2 separate regions of the Homo sapiens genome follow, and region 2 is linked to region 1. The links come from fine-mapping of genetic effects on gene expression. Tissue or cell type: whole blood. Region 1 holds a variant in brackets; the other region holds the start of a gene. All regions are shown on one strand. Distances are between the middles of the regions.

What was found. PIP is the estimated chance that this variant, and not a neighbour inherited with it, causes the effect.
Region 2: AP3M1 starts here. The variant in region 1 is fine-mapped to the expression of AP3M1 in whole blood (INTERVAL, PIP above 0.99).

What each region holds. Positions count from the first base shown.
Region 1 is chr10:74,691,380-74,699,484 of GRCh38, forward strand. All of the region lies in intron 10 of ADK (adenosine kinase), which reads left to right. Among named protein-coding and RNA genes, the nearest start is that of KAT6B, 130 kb to the right of the region's middle. The variant C/G (reference allele first, on the strand shown) is at 4,574.
Region 2 is chr10:74,146,521-74,154,625 of GRCh38, forward strand. It overlaps AP3M1 (adaptor related protein complex 3 subunit mu 1), which reads right to left and starts at 4,308. Exons shown (of 9, transcript NM_012095.6): 1 at 4,235-4,308. It overlaps ADK (adenosine kinase), which reads left to right and starts at 4,701. Exons shown (of 11, transcript NM_006721.4): 1 at 4,701-4,823. The coding sequence starts at 4,759. RefSeq lists enhancers at 4,232-4,461, 4,872-5,051.

The sequences.
Region 1 (8,105 bases):
ACTTATGTTACTACTCCCATATTATCTCTAAATAACTATGTAATTAGCTTGTCACTACTATACAGTGTGAAGTTTGATATTACTCATGGATAAAGAACATTGGTAACTTAAGTGAGTGAGCAAGGGTGGGGTGAGGGATGGAGGCAGCAGGGAAATCATAGAATTATTACAATCAGGAATGCAAATGGTTAATTAGATCATTGCACCCAGTCCTTAAGGATCTGAGCCAGAGCCATGGAGAATACCAAACGAGTCTGAGGTAAATTCTCCATGGCTTGTCACAGTGTCTTCTGAAGACCATAAACATACAACAAAGTAAGTTGACAAAGCACGCAACAGATCAATGAGTTTGGGATATAATGCATGTAATTTTAAACAGTTCCTTTTATTTGGGGAGGTTTTTCTTTTAAGTAAATACTAAGAATTTTTTTTAATTGAAAAATATTTCACTCATCTCATTTTCCAACATCCTGAGGTTATATGTGTGGCCTATGGGGTGAGGATGTGTAGCACTGGGAACTCTCATTTATTGCTGGTAAAAAATGCAAAATGGTAAACAACCACTTTGGAAGACAATTTGGCAATCTCTTACAAAACTAAACATACTTTTACCATATGATCTAGCGATCAGGCTCCTTCGTTGCCCAAATGATTTAAAAACTTACGTCTTCACAAAAACCTGCATGCATATGTTTATAGCAGTTTTATTCATAATTGACAAAACTTGGAAGTAGCTACATATCTTTCACTAGGTGAATGGATAAACATTATCGATACAATAAAATATGATTCAGCCAACAAAAAGTAATGAGCTATCAGCTGGGCATGGTGGCTCACACCCGTAATCCCAGCATTTTGAGAGGCAAAGGCGGGCAGATCACTTGAGGCCAGGAGTTCAAGACCAGCCTGGCCAACATGGTGAAACCCTGTCTCTACTAAAAATACAAAAATTAGCTGGGCATGGTGGCAGGCGCCTATAATCCCAGCTACTTGGGAGACTGAGGCAGGAGAATTGCTTAAACCCAGGAGGCGAAGGTTGCAGTGAGCTGAGATCGTGCCATTGCTCTCCAGCCTGGGCAACAAGAGCAAAACTCTGTCTCAAAAATAAAAAAAAGAAAGAAGGAAAGAAATGAGCTATTAAGCCAAGAAAAGACATGAGGGAACCTTAAATGCATGTTGCTAAATGAAAGAAGGCAGTCTTAAAGGCTACATACTGTGTGATTCTAACTACAGTCATGCACCACATAACATTTTGGTCATTGACAGACCACATATATGGCAGTGGTCTCATAAGATTATAAAACCTTATTTTTACTGTACCTTTTCTATGTTTAGATATGTATAGATACATAGGTACTTAACATTTTGTTACAATTACCTAAAATTCAATAGAATAACAGGCTATACAGGATTGTAGCCTGGGAACAATAGGCTATACCATCTAGGTTTCTGTAAGTACACTCTGATGTTTTCACAATGACACAATCACCTAGTGATCCATTTCTCAGAATATATCCCCGTTGTTAAGCAACTCAAGACTGTATATCACATTCTAGAAAAGGCAAAACTATGGAGACTGTAAAAAAGTCAGTAGCTACCATGGGCTGGAGCTGTGGCGCAAGGAGAGAGGGATGAATAGGTAGAGAGCACTGAGGATTTTTAGAGCAGCAAAACTGTTTTGTGTGATACTTTAATGGTGTATATTATTATATTTGTCAAATCCCACAGAATATACAACACAAAGTGTAAGCCCTAATGTAAACTATAGATATTATTTAATGATAATATGTCAATAATGGCTCATCGATTGTAACAAATACACCCACTAACTAATGTAACAGGTTAATCATAGGTGGAACTGGGGAGTAAGGGGATGAGGGAAGATTTGGGAACTCTCTGTATTTTCTGCTTCATTGTTTTGTAAACCTAAAACTGCCCAAAAATATAAAGTCTAATTTTTTTAAACCCAAGTGGGAAAACCTTTCTTCGATCCATCTTATTCTACTGACATCTTGGGTGTGTATGATGGTCTGTGTTTCCCAGTGTCATCAATTTCACTGCCTTAAGGTGCTATGGCTTAGACTTGTGTCCTGTGGCCAGTGACCTCACAGTTTTTACCAAAATACTTGTTTTCATTGCTATCACGTGATAGCTACTCTAAGTATGATTATCCTTCTTAATTCTGTTAGGAATCCCCCCGGCATTCCCTGTGAGGGAAGTATTAGTCCTTGAATTTCCGTTTCAAAAGATGCGTACTGATTTACTTGGTATATAGCTTCTGTAAGAGGAAGTTTCATTTGGGAAAGAAAGGTTGTGCTAAGGTTCCCTCAGAAACTTTCTAAATTGCCTTCTCTAAAATTGCCTGTGTTTCCCTAAGCCTAAGAGTAAAATACAGGAAATAGTGATGATTTTTATGTGCTTGAGGAATCTTCTAAGAAGAGTGACCAATTTTATTCTACTTATACTGATACTTGTACTGATTTACCTTGTGGAAAATTCATCCAGTGGCTACAATTACTAACTCACTCCAAAGGCATGAGTGGGAAACTATTAAAATAACACATCACTTAGCTGAAACTCTTGAATGGTTGCTCTTAATAACCATTTTTCTGAATAATTTAAAGTTCCCATGTTTTTTAAAAAGGTTTATTGACTTAGATCTGATTTGAAAAGTGTAATGTAGCTTATTATAGAATATTTAAAACATAAGAAAAACAAACAGGAAAAAAGTCATCCCAACTCTAGAAACTTAACTTTTTTCAAACACATTTTTTTTTTTTTTTTTTTTTTTTACTATTTTGACTAAACATGTTTCTAAATGTACTTCTTGGATCTGACTAAAGACTAAAAATGGAAGGAAACACAAGTAGAAATTATAAAGTCAGGATCAGGCCAGTGTGGTAGCTCATGCCTGTAATCTGAAAACCTTGGGAGGCTGAGGTGGGAGGATCACTTGAGGCCAGAAGTTGGAGACCAGCCTGGGCAACCTAGTGAGGCCCCATCTCTACCCCAAAAAAAAAAGAAAAAGAAACTTATTTATTTAATTTCCTCTCTTTAAAGGTATCATATGCAAAACAGAAGGTTTGGGGGTTTTGGGGTTTTTTGTTTGTTTGTTTTTTGAGACAGGGTCTCCCTCTGTAGTCCAGGCTAGAGTACAGTGGCACAATCATAGCTCACTGCAGCCTCAAACTCCTGGGCTCAAGCAGTCCCCACTACCTTAGCCTCCCGAGTAGCTAGGACTAAAGGTTTACACCACCATGCCCAGCTAATTTTTCTATTTTTTGTAGATACAGGGTCTTGCTGTGTTGCCAGGGTTGGTCTCAAACTCCTGGGCTCAAGCAATTCTCCTGCCTCAACCTCACAAAGTGCTGGGATTACAGGCATGAGCTGCTGTGCCCAGCCAGAAGTTTTCATTTTAGCACAGTTTAATCTTTCACTTTCTGGTTTCTGCTTTTTGTGTGTCTTATTTAAGAAATATTTTCTACCTCTAGGACATAAAGATATTTTTTATTTTCTTCTAAAAGTCTTACTATTTTTCCATTTACATTTAACTCATTGATAGACCTGGAATTCTTTTTTTTTTTAATATAGAGTGAGGTAATGTTATTTTTCCAAATTGAAAACTAGTTGCCTAAACACTACTTTTCTAAGAAGCCATCTTTTCCCCATGAATTTGCAATGGCAACTCTGTTGTAGCTCAAGTTTCCACCTTTTCTCTATTTATTTATAGCTATGCCAACAAACACTGCATTTATTATTATAGATTTTTAGAAGTATTTAATCTGGTAAGACTAGTCTCTCCTATCATTTTTACTTCAGTAAGTGTATATGCCTGTTCTTGATCCTTTGCTTTTTCATATAAATTTTAGAATCAACTTATCAGGTTCCCAAAAACATTGTTGAGACTGTGATTGAATTTGTATTGAATGTTATCTTCTTCTCCAATAACCCAGCATATCTCTCCATTTAGGTCCTTTGTAATATCTTTCCATAAAGTTCTATAGTTTTCTTTATTAGAGGCTGGCATAACTTGCATCGCTTTTGTATTTTTACCAAATTACATTTTTAAAACTGTTGCTCTTGTATATATATATGTGTGTGTGTGTGTGTGTGTGTGTATGTGTGTATGTGTGTATATATGTATATGTATATATGTATGTATATTCTATATACAAAGCTGCTCTCAATGAAAATATTGACAAATTTATTTCTTCTTTTACAATTCCTGTGTATGTGTGGGGTGTGTGTGTGTGTGTGTGTGTGTGTGTGTGTGTGTGTGAAGATCTCGCACTGTTGCCCAGGATAGAATGAGTACAGTGGCATGTTCACAGCTCACTACAGCCTCATCCTTCTGGGCTCAAGCAATCCTCCCACCTCAGCCTCCCAAGTAGCTGGGACTACAGTCATGTGCCACCATGCCCAGATAATTTCTGTATTTTTTGTAGAGCCGAGGTTTCAATTTCTTACCCAGGCTGGTCTTGAACTCTTGGGCTTAAGCGACCTGCCCACCTTAGCCTCCCAAAGTGCTGGAATTACAGGCACAAACTACTGCACCCAGCCTCCCTTTACAATT[C/G]TTAAATTTTTTTTAGTCTTGTTACTCTTGTTAGGGCTTCCCCACTATGTTAAATAGTATTGATTTTTTATTTTATTTTATTTTTTGATACAGAGTCTTACTCTGTTACCCAGGCTGGAATACAGTGGCACAATCTCAGCTCAACACAACCTCCACCTCCCGGATTCAAGCAATTCTCATCCCTTAGCCAACCGAATAGCTAGGATTGCAGGCACACACCACCACACCTGGCTAATTTTTGTATTTTTAGTAGAGATGGGGTTTCACCATGTTGGCCAGGCTGGTCTCGAACTCCTGACCTCAAGTGATCCACCAGCCTCGGCCTCCCAAAGTGCTGGGATTACAGGTGCAAGCCATTACGCCTGGCCTGATTATTATTATTTTATTTTTATTTTTTATTTATTTATTTTTGTTTTTGTTTTTGTTTTTTTTTGAAACGAACTCGTTCTGTCACCCAGGCTGGAGTTCAGTGGCCCGATCTCGGCTCACTGCAAGCTCCACCTCCCGAGTTCATGCCATTCTCCTGCCTCAGCCTCCCGAGTAGCTGGGACTACAGGCACCCGCCACCACCCCCAGCTAATTTTTTTTTTTGTATTTTTAGTAGAGACAGGTTTTCACCATGTTAGCCAGGATGGTCTCGATCTCCTGACCTTGTGATCTGCCCGCCTCGGCCTCCCAAAGCACTGGGATTACAGGCATGAGTCACCATGCCCAGCCCTCATTATTATTTTTAATGGGACTGTGTATGTTTTCTATTTATTTGTAATTTTACTGTTTCCCTTTTTCCACATTTTCTGCAGTTATTGGGTATGACTTTTATAATCAGAAAAACAATATTTTCACTTGCTTTCTTAAAAATAAATAATCTCTTAGTGAAGGCCTGAGGGGTCCTTATAGGTGTAATATGGATGGCCATGGAGCTGCTATGGCTTCAGGCTTTATATATATGAGGTATTGCTGTCTATTCACAGTATTCTCTGACCTTTAAATTTATGTGGCTTAAAATCTATTTTCAATGCATAAACATTTGTATATTTTTCCAGGTGAACAATGTACTACCTAGATGTATAATAATTTAAATTTAGTGTAAAATGAGATTTTTTACAACAAATTATATATTTCCAAAAACTTTAAAATGTTTAAACTCTACATAGGCATATGGTGGTCTACTATATATAAAAGGTTTCTGGGAACTATTTAAGAAGATAAAAATAGAGCCACTGACATGTATTTGTACTGTATCTTTGGGAAAACAATTTCAGCGTAATATATACTTGTAAAAAGTGAATTAGTAAAACTATTCTGGCCGGGCACAGTGGCTCACACCTGTAATCCCAGCACTTTGGGAGGCTGAAGTAGAAGGATTGCTTGAGCCCAGGGGTTCAGACCAGCTGGGCCACATGGTGAGACTCCATTTCTACAAAAAATAGAAAAGTTAGTCAGGCATAGTGGCACACACCTGTAGTTCTAGCTACTCAGGAGGCTGAAGTGGGAGGATTGCTTGAGCCCAGGAGTACAAACAAAAACAAAAAAAACTTTATTCCTCCAAGTTTAAAAAGTGCAGCTTGCTTACTTGTTGACAAGCTGCTGAATATAGAATGAACAGTAATAGAGTCTACTGGGTTTTAGGTTCCAGCTACCATGAAAAACTATTAAGGAACTATAAATAGAAAAGAAAAAATGGACTCATAAAGACTTTGTTCATTTCCTTCTAAAATATCCCTAGCTTATTAAGTGTCTCCATTAAGGCTTCCGTACCCACTGACAATATTTCTTGATTCTCTGTAAATGACACTAAGAAAATTCTAGATGCTATAGCTCTTCTATAGTAACTACATGGAATAGACAGCTTAAGTTAGGAAATTACATTGCCTTTTGAGCACACCAGCAATCCTACCTCTGTGTGCTTTGAGGAAACTAGTGTAGCACCTCCTCTTTTTGTACAACTTTAACATATGTTTCAGGTCTCATGTCAAATACCAGATACAATTTGTCAATTTATTGATCACATTTTGTAACATCAGTAAAAGTCTAAATAAAATCAACCAGAAGATAATAGGCTACACCAATTGTTAATGAACAGAGGTTTATTTGGAAAGATTGTTCCAGGATTCAGAGCCAGCTAACAATAGCTCTAGGAACCCAATTTATTGTCGATGAGAGATTCTCACCTTATGCCTCGTCAGCTAGAGGACCTAAAGTCTATAACGTCTCCTAAAGCTGGGAAAAGCCTGAGAGGCCCAGGTTGATACGCCTATGTGTAACAGGATAGAGAGAAGGAACCAAAGTAAAAAGGCAACAACAACTGCCTCAGCATATGAGTTCTTGATTTGGAAAAACCTGCACTGATGGTTCTTGTTCTCTGGTGTAATGCCTCCTATGCCTGCTCTCTTGGCTGTGTTGAAAAGCATACATACAGAGCTGTGCTCTTCATTTTCAAGATGATGTACTGATAAGGACCACAAGCCAGTGGCACTGGGAAAAAGGGATCCTAAGAGACTTTTTCTTATTAAACATACATTCAAAGTCAGTTATTTAATATTTTGCTTTTTGGACTCTTGGTAAGCCCAAATCTTGTTCTAAAAAGAGCAGACTTTTTTGTTTTGTTTTGTTTTGTTTGAGATAGTGTCTCACTCTCTCTCCCATTCTGGAGTGCAGTGGAGCGATATGGCTCACTGCAGCCACAACCTCCCAGGCTTGGGTGATCCTCCCACCTCAGCCTCCTGAGTAAGTAGCTGAGACTACATGTATGTACCACCACGCCTGGCTAAATTTTTGAATTTTTTTGTAGGGACGGAATTTTGCCATGTTGCCCAGGCTGGTCTCAAACTTCTGGGCTCAAATGATCTGGGTGCCTCAGCCTCCCTAAGTACTGGGATTACAGGCATGAGCCACCAGGCCTGACTTGTTTTTGTTTTTTTGTTGTTGTTGTTGCCCAAACTAGAGTACAGTAGGCTCAATCACAGCTCACTGCAGCCTCAACCTCCCACCTCAAGCAGTCCTTCCACCTCAGCCTCCCAAGTAGCTGGGATTGCAGGTGCATGCCACCACGCCCAGCTAATTTTTTTTTTTTTTTTATGTAGAGACGAGTCTCCCTGTGTTGCCCAGGCTGGTTTCCTGGGCTCAAATGATTCTCCCATCTCAGCCTCCCAAAGTGCTCAGATTAGAGGTGAGGCATGAGCCACCCAACCTAGCCTTTTTTTTTTTTTTTTTTTTAATACCTGCAAGCCACATTTATCTGCTATAGTGTTTACCAACCACACTCTGGGGCCTGAGGCTGTGTTTCAGTGAATGAAATATTAAAAAGTACTTTGTTTACTTGCTGACACAGTACAGTATTTGTATCTATTAATAGCATATTGTTATTGTTGGTTTTTTTTTTCGAAAAACACTTTATTGGAATAATATACTTAAAATGCAGGGAACTTTTAAAAATAGAGTGAGGCCAGGCATGGTGGCTCACACCTATAATCCCAGCACTTTGGGAGGCCGAGGCAGGCGGATCACCTGCAGTCAGGAGTTCAAGACCAGC
Region 2 (8,105 bases), 540 kb before region 1:
GGTTTTGTGCTAAAAAACATTTAGGCTTGGAGGAGGGGGTGTGTGGAGATGAGAGAGATGTGTCACTTGGCCTGGTCCTGTGTAATTTGACCAATTCTGGATACATCTGACCCAAATAAATATATTCAAAAAACTATTATATATACCCTTCTGGTGCTTTAGAGAAGCCAGATTGGAATCAGAATTGTAAGTAATCAGGATTTTTTGTTAATGGGAATTAATCAAAAGGAGAATTGAAACAAAAGAAAGAATGTGCATAGTATGAAGAGAGCTTATGGCAGGAACTCCAACATTTGAGTAGGAGGTGGGTCAAGGAAGTGGACCTAAAGAATGACCAAGATGTGACTGAAGAGTCCTAAGAAAAAAAAAAAAACAGGGTGGTTTTTAGTAACTATAGCTTATTAGTGTATTTCCAGAAGAATGGAGTGGTAAATACTGTTACATGGCACAAAGAGGTTAAGCTACGAGAATTGAAAATGTCAGCTGGGCGTGGTGCTCACACCTATAATCCCAGCACTTTGGGAGGCCAAAGTGGGAGTATCACCTGAGCTCGGGAGTTCGAGACCAGCCTGGCCAACATGGTGAAATCCCATCTCCACTAAAAATACCAACAAATTAGCTGGGTGTGGTGGTGGGTGCCTGTAATCCCGGCTGCTCTGGAGGCTGAGGCAGGAGAATCGCTTGAACCCGGGAGGTGGAGGCTGCAGTGAGCCGAGATGGCGCCACTGCACTCTAGCCTGGATGACAGAGCGAGACTCCATCTCAACAACAACAAAAAAGAATTGAAAATGTCTGTTGATTTAAGAGTGTTTTTTAAACTTTCTTTTCCTTAATGCCTGCTAAGGAGCCCTTTTAGACTCCATCTTCTCACCACCCTGCCAATCAAATTCCTCACCCATAAAACTTTTTATTATTCTTTCTTTTTCAACTGTAAATTGACAAATTATAGTTGTATATATTTAGGGGTACCAGATGTTATGATTTATGAAATGTGGAATAATTAAATGAAGCTAATTAATATCACCATAAAATTTTAATACCACAGAATATTCTCTGTTTATGTATTGTATTTGTGCTTTACACATAAAAAGAGTATTATATTTTTTTCACCTCACAAGAAGCAGTTTTTATCTGCTTTGAGAATGCATGATTTAACACACAGAGGACACTGGTGATCTTGGTAAAGGTAGTTTTGGTGGGCTGGGTGCGGTGGCTCACACCTGTAATCCCAGCACTTTGGGAGGCTGAGGCGGGCAGATCACGAGGTCAGGAGTTCGAGACCAGCCTGGCCAACATGGCGAAACCCTGTCTCTACTAAAAATACAAAAGTTAGCTGGGCATGGTGGTAGGCGCCTGTAATCCCAGCTACTCGGGAGGCTGAGGCGGAAGAATCACTTGAACTCTGGAGGCGGAGGTTGCAGTGAGCCGAGATTGCCATTGCACTCCAGCCTGGGCGACAAGAGCAAGACTCCATCTCAGAAAAAAAAAATAGTTTTGGTGGTAGTTCAGTGGAATGCTAGAAATAAGACATTGCAGTGGGCTGGGAAATAAATAGCAAGAAGTGTAAAAAAATAGAGATATGTAGAGTAGATTCAAGAAGTCTAGCTGTGAAGAGGATGAAAAGACAGGAAAATAAATGCAGCAGTTCATAAAGTGAAGGAAGAATACATTCAAATGCTGAAGGAAAGGTGTGAATAGAGGGGGAAAAGCTGACATAGGAGAGAGGGAAAAACGGAAAGAGGACCCTGACATAGCAGGAGAGGATGCTACTGAGAGACTAGGTCAAAGGGTTTGCCTTCTCTAAGGAGAAGGAACACTTTCTACTCTTCAGATTGAAGGGAAGGTTTGTATACTTGACTGCAGGCAGATGATGGCTCTCCTTCTCTGTGTAATGGGAGAGAGGTCATTTCCAAAGGGAGAGAGAAGTCCTCTTCTCTGTAAATACCATGTGCTACTCATGAATTGACACAGTACTGAGCTACTTAAAAATATTTAAATCTGCAAAGAACTCCCATAGCGTATGTGTATATGTATTTTTTTTTAAGAGATAGGGTCTTGTTTTGTTGCCCAGGCTGAAGTGCAGTGGACCAATCATAGCTCACTGTAACTTTGAACTCCTGGGCTCAAGTGATCCTTCTGCCTCATTCTGCCTCTACCTCCTGAGTAGCTAGGACTACAACCACATGCCACAAAGCCTGGCTAATGTTTAAATTTTTTGTAGAGATGGAGTCTCGCTATGTTGCCCAGGCTGATTTCCAGCTCCTGGCCTCAAGTGATTTTCCCGCCTCACCCACCCAAAGTGCTAGGATTACAGGCGTGAGCCACCGCACTCCATCTGCCCATAGTATATTGGTTTGTTTTTTTTTTTTTTGAGACGGAGTCTTACTCTATTGCCAGGCTGGAGTGCAGTGGCGCAATCTCAGCTTACCACAACCTCCGCTTCCTGGGTTCAAGCGATTCTCCTGCCTCAACCTCCCGAGTAGCTGGGACTACAGGCACGTGCCACCACGCCCAGATAATTTTTATATTTTTAGTAGTGACGGGGTTTCTCCATATTTGCCAGGATGGTCTCGATCTCTTGACCTCGTGATCCACCCACCTCAGCCTCTCAAAGTGCTGGGATTACAGGCATGAGCCCTACCGTGCCTGGCCGTATATTATATTAAATGGTTAGAAATAAAAATCATAAGATTAAGTAAGAAAATATAATCTTGTTGCAAAGAGAGCTTTCCTAAAGATACGTAAGGTTTTTTTTTTTTTTTTTTTTTTTTTTTTTTTTTTTTTTTCGAGGCAGAGTCTCGCTCTGTCGCTCAGGGTGGAGTGCAGTGGTGAGGTCTCAGCTTACTGCAACTTCCGCCTCCCGGGTTCAAGGGATTCTCCTGCCTCAGCCTACCAAGTAGCTGGGACTACAGGCGTGTGCCACCACACCTGGCTAATTTTTGTATTTTTAGTAGAGACAGGGTTTCACTATGTTGGCCAGGTTGGTCTCGAACTCCTGACTTTGTGATCCGCCCGCTTCAGCCTGCCAAAGTGCTGAGATTACAGGCGTGAGCCACCGCGCCTGGCCAAGATTCGTAAATTAAGATAATTCTTCATTAACCTCATTCACTTCACTTCTCCTATAGTGTCAATTGAAAGTGTCCCTCTGTCTTTCCCAAATTAATCCTTTCACTTGTAACTTGATCCCATTCCTTTCCTTCTCTTCTGGGAGACAAGACTTTTTCTTGAATCTTCAAATAGTTGCTTGCTTCCTGCCCCCAAATAGATATCTTGTATTCTTTAAAACAAACCCCAAACTTTCCCCCACCTTGCCACTCTCAATAATCTTGCTTCATGCCCCAAATGATGAAGGATTGGTCTACACTTGCAGTCTTTCCTCAGTTACTATTAAAGCATCTCTCTCAAACAGCTCAATGACTTTCTAATTATAAAATCCAACGACCTATTCTGATTTCAGCTTCCTCCTCTGACCATTGCAGCATTTTATGTCATTGATAACTTTCTCCTAAACAAAAATACTTCTTACCCTTTTATATGAAACTTCATCTGTTTTGGGTCTCACCTTGAAAGTCTTTCGGGCTTAATTCTCATAATTTTTTTTAAAGTCTTTCTACAATCTCCATGTAAACCACTGTTTCAAATTCGATAAAACTCAAACTCCATAAAATACCTCCTCCTGTCACTGGCACCATCTTCTTAATCACACATAAGGCTGTAAGTTTCAGGTTCAAACAAATCTACCAAATACAAACAGCCACATCGCCCGTCACTCTTCCACACTCACTGCCACCTGCTCAGCTTAGAACCCCGTTACCTCTCTCCTGAAGAACTGCAACACCCTTCTCACTGCATTCCTCACCCCAGGCTCTTCCAGGCACCACCCGCTAACAGGACGTCTGCTCAGGTCCGTTTGGGGTTTTGTCCTCCAAAGCAGAAACCTGGGACTGAGATTCCTGCCGTCTGTACTCCAGCTCACTATAGAGGGGGAACCCAGTAAGCTTGACCTCCGGGGCTCAGGCGCCTGAGAACACTGGGCTGCAGGTGGACCGCTCCCTTCTGGCCTTGCTGGCGAGAAAGCCCGGAAGGCCGGGAGTGGGGGGGAAGCGAGGCCCGGGCCAACAGCACCAAAGACGCTCCTAGAGCCCAGATCGGAGTCGGGGGCCCCAGCTATTCAGCCTACTCCCGGGTTTTGGAGCTGTCCCCAGTCCACAGATTTCCCGCCCCTCACACTCACCCCAACACCTGTGCCAGTCAGTGATTCGGCGCCGGATCCTCTCCTACCGAAGCTGGAGAAGCCGAGAAGGCCGCGAGGACCCGCAGCTGGAGTGCCCAGGAAATTGCCTGATTAACAGCTTCAAAGACACCGACTCTGTCTACCGTATTAGAAATTTTAAATATGCAGGAAGACCGTAAATGAGAGGAAAGACGTCTCTTGAGGCTTAGTATCTAAATCTTCTACATAATCCAGGGCCTAGAAAAATGGTGGGTTTCTCTCCATCTAGATTCAGGCGGTCATCTGCTGCCTAACGCAGTCTGGGGTCCCTCATGGTAGGGGAGGCGGGGTCAGGAATGGGCGGGGCATTCGCTGTTGGTGCCGACGGATAGAGCCAATGATTGTGGATGACAGCGGCACAGAATGGGCGGAGTCTGGAGGGGCGGGATTTGGAGAAGAGAAAGCGGTGATGCGAAGAGGGGGCGGGACCAGAGAGTGGATGGCAGAGGTGGGCTGTAGAGCCAAAGTGGGGTGGGAGCGCGAAGATGGCAGCTGCTGAGGAGGAGCCGAAGCCCAAAAAGCTGAAGGTGGAGGCGCCGCAAGCGCTGAGGTGAGCGCTGCCGGACTTGGGGAGGAGGGTGACGGCGCTGCAAGCAAGCCAGGGCCCACGTGGGGTTGCACGGCCCCGACGCTGGGTGGTGTCTCTCACTGCCAGCTTGGGGCCAACACGCAGGACCTCCCCCAGCTGCCCGCTTGGCCGCGACCCCTTGCCAGACGTTCTCTCCGTTTGGCTGAGTCCCCGCCTGTCTGGTGCAGCTCCGGCTCCAGCAGCCCTTCGCCAGTCGTGGCCCGCAGGGGGACCGAGCTGGCTGACCGCGCCACCTGCGAGCAAGCCCAGGCTGGGCTGGTGCGACCCCGGAGGGTCGGACCGGAGCAGCGTCTGTAGGCGGCCGCCTTCTCTTCCCGGGGGATGGCGGGAAAGAGGCTCGGCAACTGCTGTACACTGGGGCAAAGTCAGAATTCTTGGGGATTTTTCAGAGTGTTGCGGAAGGGCACGTTGACCTTCCTTTTCGTGCACATTCTGAAAGCCCGTACCTTTGAGGACCCTCTACCAGGGACCCAGACCCCTCCGATGCTTTGCAGGGGCAGCATTTGGATGAATGGATAGGAAAGGTTGATTTCTCTTTTTTATTTACACTTTTTGGCAGCAACGGGGACAGTGCTGCCCCTAACACCTGCCTCACATGTGATTGATGTTGCAACTTTTACTTATGAAGAGTCATTTGTTAAAATATCCCTTCCTAATAAGTATAAAGTGAAGCAGGCAGTCTTTGATGATTTGGAAATGTTCGCTGAAAGGCAGCGATTTTTTTTTCCATCTTAAAATAGACATATCAAACTGATTTAAAACTATTAGGACACTCCTGATTAAACAGGACATATCCCATTTCTTCCAGTATCACTCTTCTTCACCTCCAAAGGAAGGAATCACTCACAATTGAAAAGAAAAGGACACTTAGGGGCCTGGTGGTGTGTTCATGCTGCTTTGAATGGAGGGTGAACAAATCCTTGCCAGTTCCTTTAATGTATTCCTACTACCCTCAAAGGGTTAGTGTGCCTACCTTATACCAAGAACATAAACTTTAAAATAAAAACCCTCAGGATATTCTATTTTTATTTTAAATATTCCAACTATATGCAGAATAAAAAGCAACGGCTTTTGAATCAGACCTACCTGAGTTCAAGGCATGTGCTTTCCCTACTCTGCCCTTTATTAGAGTATTTCCTTATAAGGCACCTCCTTCGCCAAACTGGAAGACAGATGCAACTTTTCCCTACCATCCTACTGAACATATAACCCTTAGATTTCCTTAGATTTTTCCTTAATAAAAATTATTATATATAATGCTGATCCATTTTCACTGTGTTTTCCTATTTATTATCTTGTTGGACAGTTCTGTGATCAAAGGAAGGCAAGAATTATGCCTATTTTACAATTGAAGATATTGAAGCCCAAATAAAACAATTAGTACAGGAACAGAAATAGGAACTAGCTGAGCATGTTTTCTTATACCTGCAGTCCTGGTGCTTTGTGAGGCTGTGGTGAGAGCATTCCTTAGGCAACTAAAATTCACTTTATACAATATGAATTTAGTGCCACCTGTAGACATGAAGTTAAAAGATTAGACACTTGAGTACTGGGACAAATCTCTAATTTTGTGGGGAGACATTTTAGGATCGGCTATTATTACTTTTATTATATTAATTTGCTTTCAGACTCAAAGTGTGATAATGCATTGAGTATTTACACTGAATTTATGATGACTTGCTTGACAGGGGATTGCTACTGGTTTTGGTTAAGGAGAATGGATTATAAAGACTTTGCATAATTTAATGTGCAGCATCAGTGGGAACAAATAATGAGATATATTTGTAGATGTCAGGAAAAATATTTAGATTTAGGGATTTGTGAGAATTTGGTCAGCTCTGGGATAATAATTCTCCACCAGGGGAAATTTTGCCCTCCAGGGGACATTTGGCGTGGTCTAGAAAGATATTTTTGGTAGGGAGAGCTATTGGCACCTAGTGGATGGAATTCAGGGGTGCTGCTAAACATGCTACATAGGACAACCCCCACAACAAAGAATTATCTGGCCAAATACGTCAACGGTGTTGAGGTTGAGAAATCTGTTCTAGAGGGAGCATCTGACAAGACTAGTCTGCCTTTCTCAAATATCTATTATTTTTCTAGGCTCGGTTGCTTTTCAGCATATAACAGTTGCTTATAAAGAAAGAATCAGGCTCTGACATGTTTTCACGTGGGATTAGGGGAAAGAAGGGAACGTTAATTGAGTGCTAGACATTATACTATGTGCTCTATATATGTTATCTCTTTTAACCCTCCCAGTGACCTATGAGGTAGGAGCAATGATTCCTGTGTTACAGACGAGCTATTTTGTGATGAAAGAAGTGGAGAAACATTTTTGGGAACTGCTCCCTAGATGAAGGTGTTCCATGATGATCACTTATATTTAAGACAACTTAGTTTTCTTTTCTCTCCTTTGGAAATCTCATCCAAGTTCATTTCTTTAGCGATCGCCTCTTAAGAGGCTACAGTGCCTTCCAAGGCTTGTTGAGCACGTGCCAAGTCTTTTCCTTCAGTTTGTCTTTCAAGTACATGCTATTTTAGACATGGTGTTAAAAACTGGATATATATAGAGAGAGAAAGAGGTAAGGCACAGGTACCATCCTCTTGGTGGGAAATAAGTGGGGTTTGGGAAAATGACACCTGAGTATTCTTAAAGATGACTAGGAGTTAACCAGTCATCTGTGACTGTAGGGTATCTGTGAAGTAGGGTATCTGCCTTATAGGAAAGTTTGTTTGGTGGCAGAACTGGGAGAGAGCTGCCTCTTGGGGAAGTGCAGATAGTCTGACTGAAGCAGAGATGTATGGGGTCCAGGCTTTGTATTAGACACTCTCACATGTGTCCTTTCTATCTCTGTGCCTCTCAGTTCTCAGATCTTAATTTAATTTAATTTTGTATATATTTTTGAGTTGGAGTCTCACTCTGGCGCACAGGTTGGAGTGCAGTGGCACCATCTCGGCTCACTGCAACCTCTGCCTCCTGGGTTCAAGCAATTCTGCTGCCTCCGCCTCCCAAGTAGCTGGGATTACAGGCGTACACCACTATGCCTGGCTAATTTTTGTATTTTTAGTAGAGACGGGATTTTGCCATGTTGGCTAGGCTGGTCTTGAACTTCTGACCTCAAGCGATCCACCTGCCTCAGCCTCCCAAAGTGTTGGGATTACAGGTGTGAGCCACCGTGCCCTGCCTTCCCAGACCTTAATTTTTACTGTCTGCTGAGTATGTGCTTCTGAGTGACTTTCTGA